Linked DNA regions of Homo sapiens. The protein of the gene in region 2 interacts with the protein of the main gene of each other region in a pairwise test. Each region holds a gene or a part of one and is shown on either strand. Other genes may lie near its edges.

The links.
Region 1: the proteins of PPP1R7 (region 2) and TAB1 interact in a two-hybrid assay, tested with the Homo sapiens proteins (one large-scale study listed by BioGRID and IntAct).
Region 3: the proteins of PPP1R7 (region 2) and MAPK6 interact in a two-hybrid assay, tested with the Homo sapiens proteins (one large-scale study listed by BioGRID and IntAct).

Annotation. Positions count from the first base shown.
Region 1 is NC_000022.11:39,402,780-39,406,428, forward strand, and holds part of TAB1 (TGF-beta-activated kinase 1 and MAP3K7-binding protein 1), read left to right. Parts: intron 1-3,649. UniProt on the Homo sapiens protein: Key adapter protein that plays an essential role in JNK and NF-kappa-B activation and proinflammatory cytokines production in response to stimulation with TLRs and cytokines.
Region 2 is NC_000002.12:241,156,951-241,160,599, forward strand, and holds part of PPP1R7 (protein phosphatase 1 regulatory subunit 7), read left to right. Parts: intron 1-856; coding exon 857-912; intron 913-1,533; coding exon 1,534-1,599; intron 1,600-2,262; coding exon 2,263-2,393; intron 2,394-3,381; coding exon 3,382-3,544; intron 3,545-3,649. UniProt on the Homo sapiens protein: Regulatory subunit of protein phosphatase 1.
Region 3 is NC_000015.10:52,025,693-52,029,341, reverse strand, and holds part of MAPK6 (mitogen-activated protein kinase 6), read right to left. Parts: intron 1,704-3,649; exon of another isoform or gene 1,469-1,703; intron 1-1,468. UniProt on the Homo sapiens protein: Atypical MAPK protein. Phosphorylates microtubule-associated protein 2 (MAP2) and MAPKAPK5.

The DNA.
Region 1 (3,649 bases), on a different chromosome or scaffold from region 2:
GGCCTCAAGCAATCCGCCTGCCTGGGCCTCCCAAAGTGCTAGGATTACAGGTGTGAGCCACTGTGCCCGGCCACAAAGAGGTTCTAAGGAGAGCTTGATGTGTTCAAAAGGACCCAGACCTTTCAGCCGGATAAAACAGTGTTAGTCTCATACTGGCTTTGGGCAAATCACTTTATGTCCCTGAGCCTTAGTTTCTCCAAACCAAGAGGACTCTGGGGAGTATTGTTGGTGTTAAAGGAACTGACACATTCCACTACTAGCCTGGCTTGGTTGCCCGCTAACCAGAAACTTCTACCTTCAGTGCTGCCGTGAGTGAATGCTGTTCATTCCCTTAAATGTCCCTGAGCACTCACTATGTGCTAGGCACCCTGCAGGTGCAGGAGACACCGCCTTTGTGGAGCTGATGGTCTAGTAAAGGGGACAGACAGTGAGCACCGAACAGATACAGATCATCTGTGATTTTGTAATATCCAAACTACAGCATCAGGTGGTGCTATGAGGAACAGTCTAGATTCACACACAGAATGTTGGGGGTGCCATTTTGGACAGGGTGGTAAGGGAAGACTTCTCCACATTTGATGAGATGAAAACGGGGAAATGGGGGCAGCATTCCTGCCCAAGGGAGCAGGAGATGCAAAGGCTGCTGTTTCAGGAGCCTCAGGGGTGCTGGTGCAGCTGGGTGGAGTGCCTTGGGGGAGCTTGGGAGTAGCTGAGGTCTGAGGGAGCCGGGGGCCATGCTGGGCTTCACAGGTCCTGATGTGGCCTCTGGATTCCATTCTTCATGTGATGTGAAGCTTTCATGGGGAGCAGATTGAGTAGGGACCTGATGTGATGTGACTTTTGATTGGAGAAAAATCCCTCTTTTTTTTTTTTTTTTGAGACGGAGTCTCGCTCTGTTGCCCAGGCTGGAGTGCAGTGGCGCAATCTCAGCTCACTGCAAGCTCCGCCTCCCAGGTTCACGCCATTCTCCTGCCTCAGCCTCCCAAGTAGCTGGGACTACAGGCACCCACCACCACACCCAGCTAACTTTTTGTATTTTTTTTTTTAGTAGAGACGGGGTTTCACCGTGTTAGCCAGGATGGTCTCGATCTCCTGACCTCGTGATCTGCCAGCCTCGGCCTCCCAAAGTGCTGGGATTACAGGCGTGAGCCACCGTGCCCGGCCGAAAAATCCCTCTTTTGAGTTTGAGTGGTGAGAGTGGAAGCCTGGGACCTCCTAAGAGACTCCTAGAGTCATCCAGGTGCGAGAAGGTGTCTTGGCCATGGGGATGGCAGAAGAATGGTGGGAAGTATCAGATTCCAGTTGTGTTTTGGAGGAAGAGCTCATGTGATTTGCTGATGGATTGAATGTGAGGTGTGTGACAGAGGAAGAAGAGTCAAAAAGGACTCTTAAGGTTTTGGTTTAAACAACAGTGGTGCCATTTACGGGGTGAGGGAGCCCTGGAAGAGGGGCACCCTGGGGCAGGGGGAATCAAGAGTTTGATTTTGCCTGTACTGTTACTTAATTATAAAAAAGAAAATCAGGCTAGGCATGGTGGCTCATGCCTGGAATCCCAGCCCTTTGGGAGGCTGAGGCAGGAGGATCACTTGAGGCCAGGAGTTCCAGATCAGCTCGGGCAACATAGTGAGATTCAGTCTTTAAAAAAATTAGTGAGGCATGGTGGTATGTGCCTGTAGTACTTAGGAGACTTAATGGGGTGATTGCCTGAGCCCAGAAGTTTGAGGTTGTAGTGAGGCTATGATCCCCTCACTGCACTCCAGGCTGGGTGACACAGCAAGACCTGTTTAAAAAAAAAAAAAGAAAGTAAGCTTAAAATCAATTTTTTAAACTTCGACATGTCCTGAGCAATTATATCTGAGATCATAGGTGCTGCTATCTGTGTAATTTATCTAAAGGATGTTAAAATAAATACATAGCCACTAAAATAAAAAGGTCCATGGGGGTACCACCTATACCCATTGCATACACCCAGCTGCTGCCCTAGCACATTGGAAGTGCCAACAATGATTATTAGCCCCTTTAAGAATGAATGAGGAGCTCTTTAGGATGACGACATGGAGAACCTTCAATGAAAACTCCGGTGGGAGAAGTGGGGGCCAGGAGTGGAGCTGGTCTCAGAGAAGTGGGTCATCCGGAAGGTTGGAGGTGGTGGGGGCATTGGGGCCTTGGAAGCTTTTTGGAGAGAAAGGTCTGCTGCTCCCCTGCTCCGAGCCCTCTTCCTGGGGTTGTGAGTCTCCCTTTCTGAGCTTCCTTTTTGCTTCTAAGGAATGTGGGTGCTTTTACCACAAAAACACTTGGCCTTTTCATAGCATAATTTGGTATTCAAGCTGTGGCCTGAGCTTGGAACCATTCTTTGTCCATTTCTGCTGCCCAGGACTTTGAGATGAGTCTGTGTGGGTACTTTGTGAACTATTATGTGACATGGACACATATATACATGAGGAGTGAATGCTTACATCATGCACAGGGTGTTTGTAAAGGCCTTGTTGGGTTAAATACTGTTGGATCACTGTAGAAGCTTTTCATACCGAAACATTAATTTTGGAAACTCCTTCACAAAATCAAATCAAAATTAGGTCTTTTGAAACAGGCTTCTTAACGTATTCTTGTGAAATTTCTCATGAGCAGTTCATTTCTCAGACATGGAAGAGTTAAGTCCTGCGTTCGCTGTTGTGTGTGTTGCAGTGGCTCCGCGATGAGGCTGTGCTGAGTGAGAGACGCCCCCTTCTCAGCTTCTCGCAGACTCTTGCTCCCTGCGCTCCAGCGCCGCTCACGGCTGGTGCTGGCAGGCCTGGCATTTGGGGGCGTGGGAGAAAGTATGCATCAGTGTGTGCAGGGGTGGAGGGGTGGGTGGTTTGTGTGAATAGAAAGTACATGACCTTTCTGAAAATTGTTCAGAAATGTGGAGGAAGGAAGCGAGAGACTTGGCAGTCCTGTAGGCTTTAATGGAATCAGCAATGGACGCTCGGTATGGCTAATCCTCGATGGAGATGGAAAGGGACGGGAGAACACGATCCAAGCCTACTCAGCTGCAGCAGCGTGAGTCCGCTGGGGAACACGGAGAAGACCAGATACTCTCACTCCCACTTGGTAGAACCTCCTGAGGTTCTCCGGCCACTGTAGTGAACCAGTGTCTGGCGAGCGCCCGAATTACGTGAGAAACTGCCCATGTGTCATTGGATCTAAGACACCAATGTTTTAAGGACACGTCAGTGTTTTGTCTATTGCTCAGAAAGAGAACTCACAGCTAATTAACTTGTAACATACCAACTCCAGAGACGTTAACATGTGGAAAATGTAGGTCTTCAAATCAGTGAAATAAGGTAATCTAATTAACAATACCAGGCTATAGCACAATGGTTGCCACAGGGCCACTTTGGGAGGCCAAGGCGTGTGGATCACAAGGTCAGGAGTTCAAGACCAGCCTGGCCAAGATGGTGAAACCACGTCTCTACTAAAAATACAAAAAATTAGCCGGGCATGGTGGCACGCACCTGTAATCCCAGCTACTCCAGAGGCTGAGGCAGAGAATTGCTTAAACCTGGAGGGGCAGAGCTTGCAGTGAGCCAAGATCGCGCCACTGCACTCCAGCCTGGGCGACAGAGTGAGACTGTCACCAAAAAAAAAAAAAAAAAAAAAGGAATCATTT
Region 2 (3,649 bases):
TGTGTCTTTGTGCATGCGTGTGTGTGTGCATCTGTGTGTGTCTTAGTCCTTTTCAGCACACATGCTGAAGTAGGTTCCAATGAAATGAAATGAGGAAGTGCTTAACAGGGAAGCTGTCGCCTCAGCAGGGAGAGCAGCTCTCTCCCTCCTCCGCACAGAGGATGCCGGCTCCGGGGTAGAGAGTCCTCGTGAAATCCAATGGGCTTCTCTGCTGGAGTGAGTTCACCAGTCTCCCCACTGAGAAGTGTGTTTAAATTATTCAGTGAGCTTCTTTGATCCTATCTGTTGAACTATGTTTTGTTTTGTTTTGCTCTTTGCAGAGGGAAGTGTTTGTAGATGCTGGGCCACCTTCCAAAGCAATAAAAGGCCCATCCTAGAGCATCTGATGTGCCCAGCATGGTCTAGATTCTAATGGCCTGGTTTATTGCCACAAACAAAAAGAGAAAAGCTACATGGGAGGCAGGCTGCTGCCAGTTCTGCAGCTCTGGGAGTCACGGAAAGGCAGTAGTGCTACCCTGCTCACCTGCACTCAGCTACTTCCTCCCCTCCTTCCCACTAACAGGTTCAAAACACATTTCCTTTCTCAGGAAGTTCAAAGGCACAGATGGATGTTTGGTGACCTTTGCCAATATCTGAATTCAGGAAATTCAGAATGCTTAAAACATCACTATTGTTGGAGCAGGGTCTAACCCTGCCACATTCTCCAGGTCCTCAGCAAACCTTCCCATTGGTTCCTCCTCGGGGTTTGAGCTGGCTCTGGGCACCAAACAGCCCCAGACCTCAGCCAGAAGCAGCTCTTCACCAGTGCCTCCTGTTAATGGGGTTCTGAACAAATCTCTTTTTCTTATTTTTTCAGAAGAACATGAGCTGCCTGTGGACATGGAAACCATCAACCTGGACAGAGATGCAGAGGTAATGCCGCCTGCTCAGCCCAGCCTTGGGCGTGGTGATGGACCACCCTGTCAGGTTATCTTGTATGAGATTAGTAAGTTATTTCCCTAGAGAGGTGGCCTAAGCCTCCCTTGGTTGAGTCAGAGTCCCGTGTTCATGTTTTTCTTACCAGTGATTGTTATCCCCATGTCTATTCGACCCTTGAGGATTGTGTGGCAGATGAGATGCCTTTGACTCATACATTGTCTGGGTCTGATGATTACATTATACATGAGGGTCCCAATGGCCCCAGGCTGTGTATGACTGGCCACTGGGCCTCCTGAGCCCACAGCGTGTCTCTGATGGTGATGGGATGGGGTGCATATCCTCAGAACCTGAGCTTATGTTTTGTGCATACAGGATCTAAGGAATGAGAAAAAGATGTCATGTACCAATCATTTTAAGGGCCAGTTTTACATAAAACTTAGTCATCACTAAGCCAAAGAGCCCCCGCAGCACACCTTGTCACTGACATCTGTCTGCTGCAGACCCACCTGGCACTGCCTCCCCCACTGCTGCCCACTTCCAGGCCGCCTCTTCTAGGACGACACAGGTCTCCAGCCACTTTGCTATAGCTGAGTATAGATTTCTGCTTTGTTTCAGGATGTTGATTTGAATCACTATCGCATAGGGAAGATTGAAGGATTTGAGGTACTGAAGAAAGTGAAGGTGAGAGGGACTCTTATGAGGGGACTATGACGCTCACCCATAGGATGTGGATAAGTCCAGAATCGAGCAGTCAGTCCTGAGTTGTGGTCCTTGTCCCAGCCTGTGGGCGGCGTGGCTGCCTCCACCTTGTAGCAGGCCTTTCTTTACTGGGAGCACAGCAGGTGTGAGACAGCAGTCGAGGGACTTGAGGCACAGCCCTGGGGCTGGCTCTCCTGAGCCCAGGCAGCCAGTGACCTGTGACTCTGGCCTGCCTCGGTTTCTGTGCCTGTGTTCAATTAGGCACTCGCTGACTTTTACAGTCCTCCGTGCCTCTCATTGGAATTTGTCAAAATTGAGCCCACCAAAGGTTCTTATGTTCTGCCAGGAAGTGGCAGACACCCACACCCCAGGCCAACGCCTCCCTCCCCAACTGGCCTGCTTGGTGGGGAGCCTGCCTCCTGCCTCCCTTTGGGTTCCCGCCCTTCCTCAGGTGTGTTAAGGAATTATAGCTTAGTGCCCTTGCCCACCTGCCTCTCAAAGGTCAGCACCTTTCTAGGAAACAGCAGGAGAATGAAGACATGTCCTTCTACCAGAAAGGCCTTTCTTGTGTCCTCCAGTATCAGCTGAGGCCTTCTCGTGGCCTCCCCCTTGCCTGTGTCAATTGTCCCTTTTCCCATCCCCCAGACTCTCTGCCTCCGCCAAAATTTAATTAAATGCATTGAGAATCTGGAGGAGCTACAGAGTCTTCGAGAGCTGGATCTTTACGACAACCAGATCAAGAAGATTGAGAATCTGGAGGCGCTAACAGAGCTGGAGTGAGTCATGAGACCCACAGGAGAACAGCATGGTGGGAAGGCCACTGGGTGGGGGGTGTCCAGTCTCCAGAGCCAACCTCCTGCTGGCTCTTAGCCCTTGAGAGGCTGCCTCTGCCACAGGGTCCTGCCCTGCATCTGAATCCCAAGTCTCTGCCTCCTGTTTTCAGGGCTCCAGGAGGCCTCATCGGCTTCATGCATGTCTTTGGCTTCCTGAACAATCCTGACTTCCAAAGTAAATCTTTGATGGGAAGGCTGCAGTGGGGACTTCTGGAAAGCCTCCATTCAGGGATGATACTGAGATCGGTAGAGAGGAAAGTTAATCCAGAATTGCCTCTTGCCTTTTGAATACTCTTTTTTTTAATTACAAAAAAAAGTGACATTTCTAATTTAAGGAGTCAGGTCCTAGGCCAGGTGCAGTGGTGCATACCTGTAATCTCAGTGCTTTGGGAGGCCAAATTGGGAGGATCACTTGAGCCTAGAAGTTCGAGATAGCCTGGGCAACATAACAAGACCCTGTCTACAAAAATTAAAATTAAAATTAAAAAAGAAGGAGCCAGGTCCTAGTTATAACTTTACCTGGATTTCTGCCCTTTGTCGCTCATTCATTTTTGCTTGTTTTGTTTCTGTTTCTAATTCAATACTTCTCAGGCCCCTTCTGTGTGCAGAGCCTGGTGTGAGGTCCTGTCATGGGCACAAGTGTGAACAAAACATAGTTTCTGCCTCAAATACCATACTGGGAGCCAGGGCATCAGGAGCCTGTAGGCTGCCTCTGGCTTGCTCCGGGCTCCTGGGCAGCCTCCAAATCCCTCATGACAGCATCAGTGTGAGCCAGGCGGCAGCAGGGGCACAGTCAGAACCCCCCACCCTCTCCCACCCGGTAGTGACTGCCGTCCCCTGATGGGGACGCCACCTTTAGTGGTTAAATTGTGAGTTCTATGCAACCTATGCTCGTGAAATTTTTTTAAAAAACTGTTTTGGTTGTTCTCAGGATTCTAGATATTTCTTTTAATCTGCTGAGAAACATCGAAGGGGTTGACAAGTTGACACGACTGAAAAAACTCTTCTTGGTCAACAATAAAATCAGTAAAATTGAGAACTTAAGCAACTTACATCAACTACAGATGCTAGAGCTGGGATCTAACCGCATCCGGGTAGGTGCAGACAGCCCTGACTAGTATATTCAGGGAGAGGCAGCTAGCGGGCTGTGTGTGGACTCAGTGGGTGTATGTAGAATGCATGGTGAGTCTGCATTTCTT
Region 3 (3,649 bases), on a different chromosome or scaffold from region 2:
AGAAGCCTGTTTAATAATTAAAAAAAAACAAAGCTAGGTGCAGTGGCTTATGCCTGTAATAAGGAGGCTGAGGTCAGGAGTTCCGAGACCAGCCTGACCAACATGGTGAAACCCCATCTCTACTAAAAATACAAAAATTAGCCAGGCGTGGTGGTGTGCGCCTGTAATCCCAGCTACTGGGGAGGCTGAGGCAGGATAATCACTTGAACCCAGTAGATGGAGGTTGCAGTGAGCCAATATTGCGCCACTGCACTCCAACCTGGACGACAGCGAGACTCCGTCTCAGAAACAAAAAAAAGCATACAGTATAACAAGGTGTAAAGTAGAAGGAAAACAAGAACATATGTCTCATAAAATGAGAAGTAGATGAATAGGCCGAAAACAGTGGTCAACTATATTGAATGCTCCTACAAGAGCCTGTAAGACTAATTTAGTAAATAGAAACCACTGGCAACCTTGACTAGAGTAGTTTTAGTGGTAAGAATGGAGGCCAATCTGTAGTAGGCTGAGAAGCAAAGGGAAGTGGAGAGAGCACAAAAAGACAACTTTTGAAAACTGGCTTGGAAGAGAATCAGAGAAATGAGGCTGTAGCTAGAGAATAATGTGGAATGGCGAGAGGGCTTATAAACAAGGAAGCCACACTTAGTGCTGTCCAATAGTGTTGTCTGCAATGATAGGGATGTTCTATATCTGCACTGTCCAATAGAGCAGCCATTAGCACCATATATGGCTACTGAACAACTGAAATATGACTAGCATCACTGAGGACCTAAATTTTTTAAATTTTTCTTTTAACAGCCACACATTTCATTGCAGAAAGCACTATTGATTAGTAGCTACCATACTGGACAGTACAGCCCTAAAGCACATCTGCATATTAATAAAGATAATCCAGAAAGGGAAAAATTCATGATGTAGGCAAGAACGAGGTAAGTCCTTAAGAAGTCAACAGGCTGGCAGGGTGCGATGGCTCACTCCTGTAATCCCAGCACTTTGGGAGGCCAAGGCAGATGAATCACTTGAGGTCAGTAGTTCAAGACCAGCCTGGTCAACACAGAGACGAATCCGTCTCTACTAAAAATACAAAAATTGCCGGGCGCGGTGGTTCACACCTGTAATCCCAGCACTTTGGGAGGCCGAGGCGGGCGGATCACAAGGTCAGGAGATCGAGACCATCCTGGCTAACACGGTGAAACCCTGTCTCTACTAAAAATACAAAAAATTAGCCGGGCGTGGTGGCAGGCGCCTGTAGTCCCAGCTACTCGGAAAGCTGAGGCAGAAGAATGGCGTGAACCTGGGAGGCAGAGCTTGCAGTGAGCTGAGATCGCACCACTGCACTCCGCCTGGGCAACAGAGCGAGACTCCGTCTCAAAAAAAAAAAAAAAAAAAAAAAATACAAAAATTAGCCGGGCGTGGTGGTGGGCACCTGCAGTCCCAACTACTCAAGAGGCTGAGGCAGAAGAATCACCTGAATCTGGGACGCAGAGGCTGCAGTGAGCCAAGATCGTGCCACTGCACTCCAACCTGGCCAACAGAGTGAGACTCCATCTCAAAAAACAGTAAATAAATAAATAAATAAATAAATAAATAAAGAGAAATCAACAGGCTGAGCAGAGTGGCTCATGCCTGTAATCCCAGCACTTTTTGAGGCCGAGTCAGGATGATTGCTTGAGCCCAGCCTGGGCAACACAGGGAGACCCCGCCTATAAAAAAAAAAAAAAAAATTAAGATTAAAAAAAAAGTCAAGAGAAGACATCCAGAGCACAAATGGCACAATCTACATGGGATACAACATGAACAAAGCAAGGCATGAAATTACAGTAACGGGTAGAGATGAAGACTCAGAATATGTATTAAGCCTGATTGGAATCTTAAGCATAAAACTCAATTACAGAGGGCTATAAAATCCAAGCAGGAGGGGGAGGGTAGGTAACTTACATCTACTAAGGACCTATTATGTGACAGGCATTTTCTTTTTTTTTTTTTTTTTTTGAGAGGGAGTCTCGCTCTGTCACCCAGCCTGGAGTACAGTGGCACGATCTCGGCTCACTGCAAGCTCCGCCTGCTGGGTTCAAGCAATTTTTCTGTCTCAGCCTCCCGAGTAGCTGGGATTACAGGCATACGCTACCATGGCCAGTTTTTTCGTATTTTTAGTAGAGATGGGGTTTCACCACGCTGGCCAGGCTGGTCTTGAACTCCTGACCTTGTGATCCGCCCGCCTCGGCCTCCCAAAGTCCTGGGATTACAGGCATTAGCCACCGCGCCCGGCTGTGACAGGCATTTTCTTTTTTCAAGACAGAGTATTGCTCTGTCGCCCAGGCTGGAGTGCAATGGTGTGATCTCGGCTCACTGCAACCTCCGCCTCCTGGGTTCAAGCGATTCTCCTGCCTGGGCCTTCAGAGTAGCTGGGAGTACAGGTATGCACCACCATACTCAGCTAATTTTTTGTATTTTAGTAAAGACGGGTTTTCATCATGTTGGCCAGGCTAGTCTAGAACTCCTGACTTTGTGATCCGCCTGCCTCGGCCTCCCAAAGTGCTGAGATTACAGGCATGAGCCATCGCGCCCAGCCATGACAGGCATTTTCTAAATGACAAATTATTTCTCTCATCTCAAACTACAGTCTTGTAAATGTCATTTTACAAACAAGAGCACTGATGCTCTTTACACACACAGTAAATGCCAAGATTTGGACATAGGCCTGTGACTATAGGGTTAGAATCTTCCCACTGCATAAGGTGGGAGGTTAAGGCCAGGCACGGTGGCTCACGCCTGTAATCCCTGCACTTTGGGAGGCCGAGACGGGTGGATCACTTGAGGTCAGGAGTTCAAGACCAGCCTGGCCAACATGGTTGAAACCCCATCTCTACTAAAAACATAAAATTAGCTGGGCGTGGTGGTGCATGCCTGTAATCCCAGCTACTTGGGAGGCTGCAGCAGGAGAATCACTTGAACCCAGGAGGCGGAGGCTGCAGTGAGCGAAGATCACACCATTGCACTCCAACCTGAACAATAAGAGCAAAACTCCGTCTCAAAACAACGACAACAACAAAACAAAAAAAGGTAGGAGGTTAAGAACCACTGTTTCGGTACCTGGAATTAACATAAACAGCAGATCAATCTGGAAGTAATCAACAAGTGCCAACAAGCCTAGAGGGACTAGGCCAGAGGCAAAAACTATCCTGCCAATGCTTTCCACAGGATAACTAAGGAAAACTTAATAGCTACTTTTTAAAAATTCAAGTGAAAATACCTGTTAAGATGGAAAGAAACTGACTTGCTTACAACTTAGATTATCTACTTTATTGAACACAGATGTATCAATTAGAAAATCAGCACTGTTTTATAATACATACTGAAATAATATCTGGGCATATTAGAAAAACTAAGTCAACATACTCTCTCTCCAATTTGTACATTAAGAAAGGACAATTATTAAACTGAGTCTAACCAGTTATTAAATTACAGCTTAGATTTTAGAGTGGGCAAAGATCATCTAGATCTGTGCTGTCCATGTAACCACCAGCTACATCCAACTATTTTTATTTTTTTTTGAGACGTAGTCTTGCTCTGTCACCCAGACTGGAGTGCAGTGGCGCTCACTGCAAGCTCCGCCTCCTGGGTTCATGCCATTCTCCTGCCTCAGCCT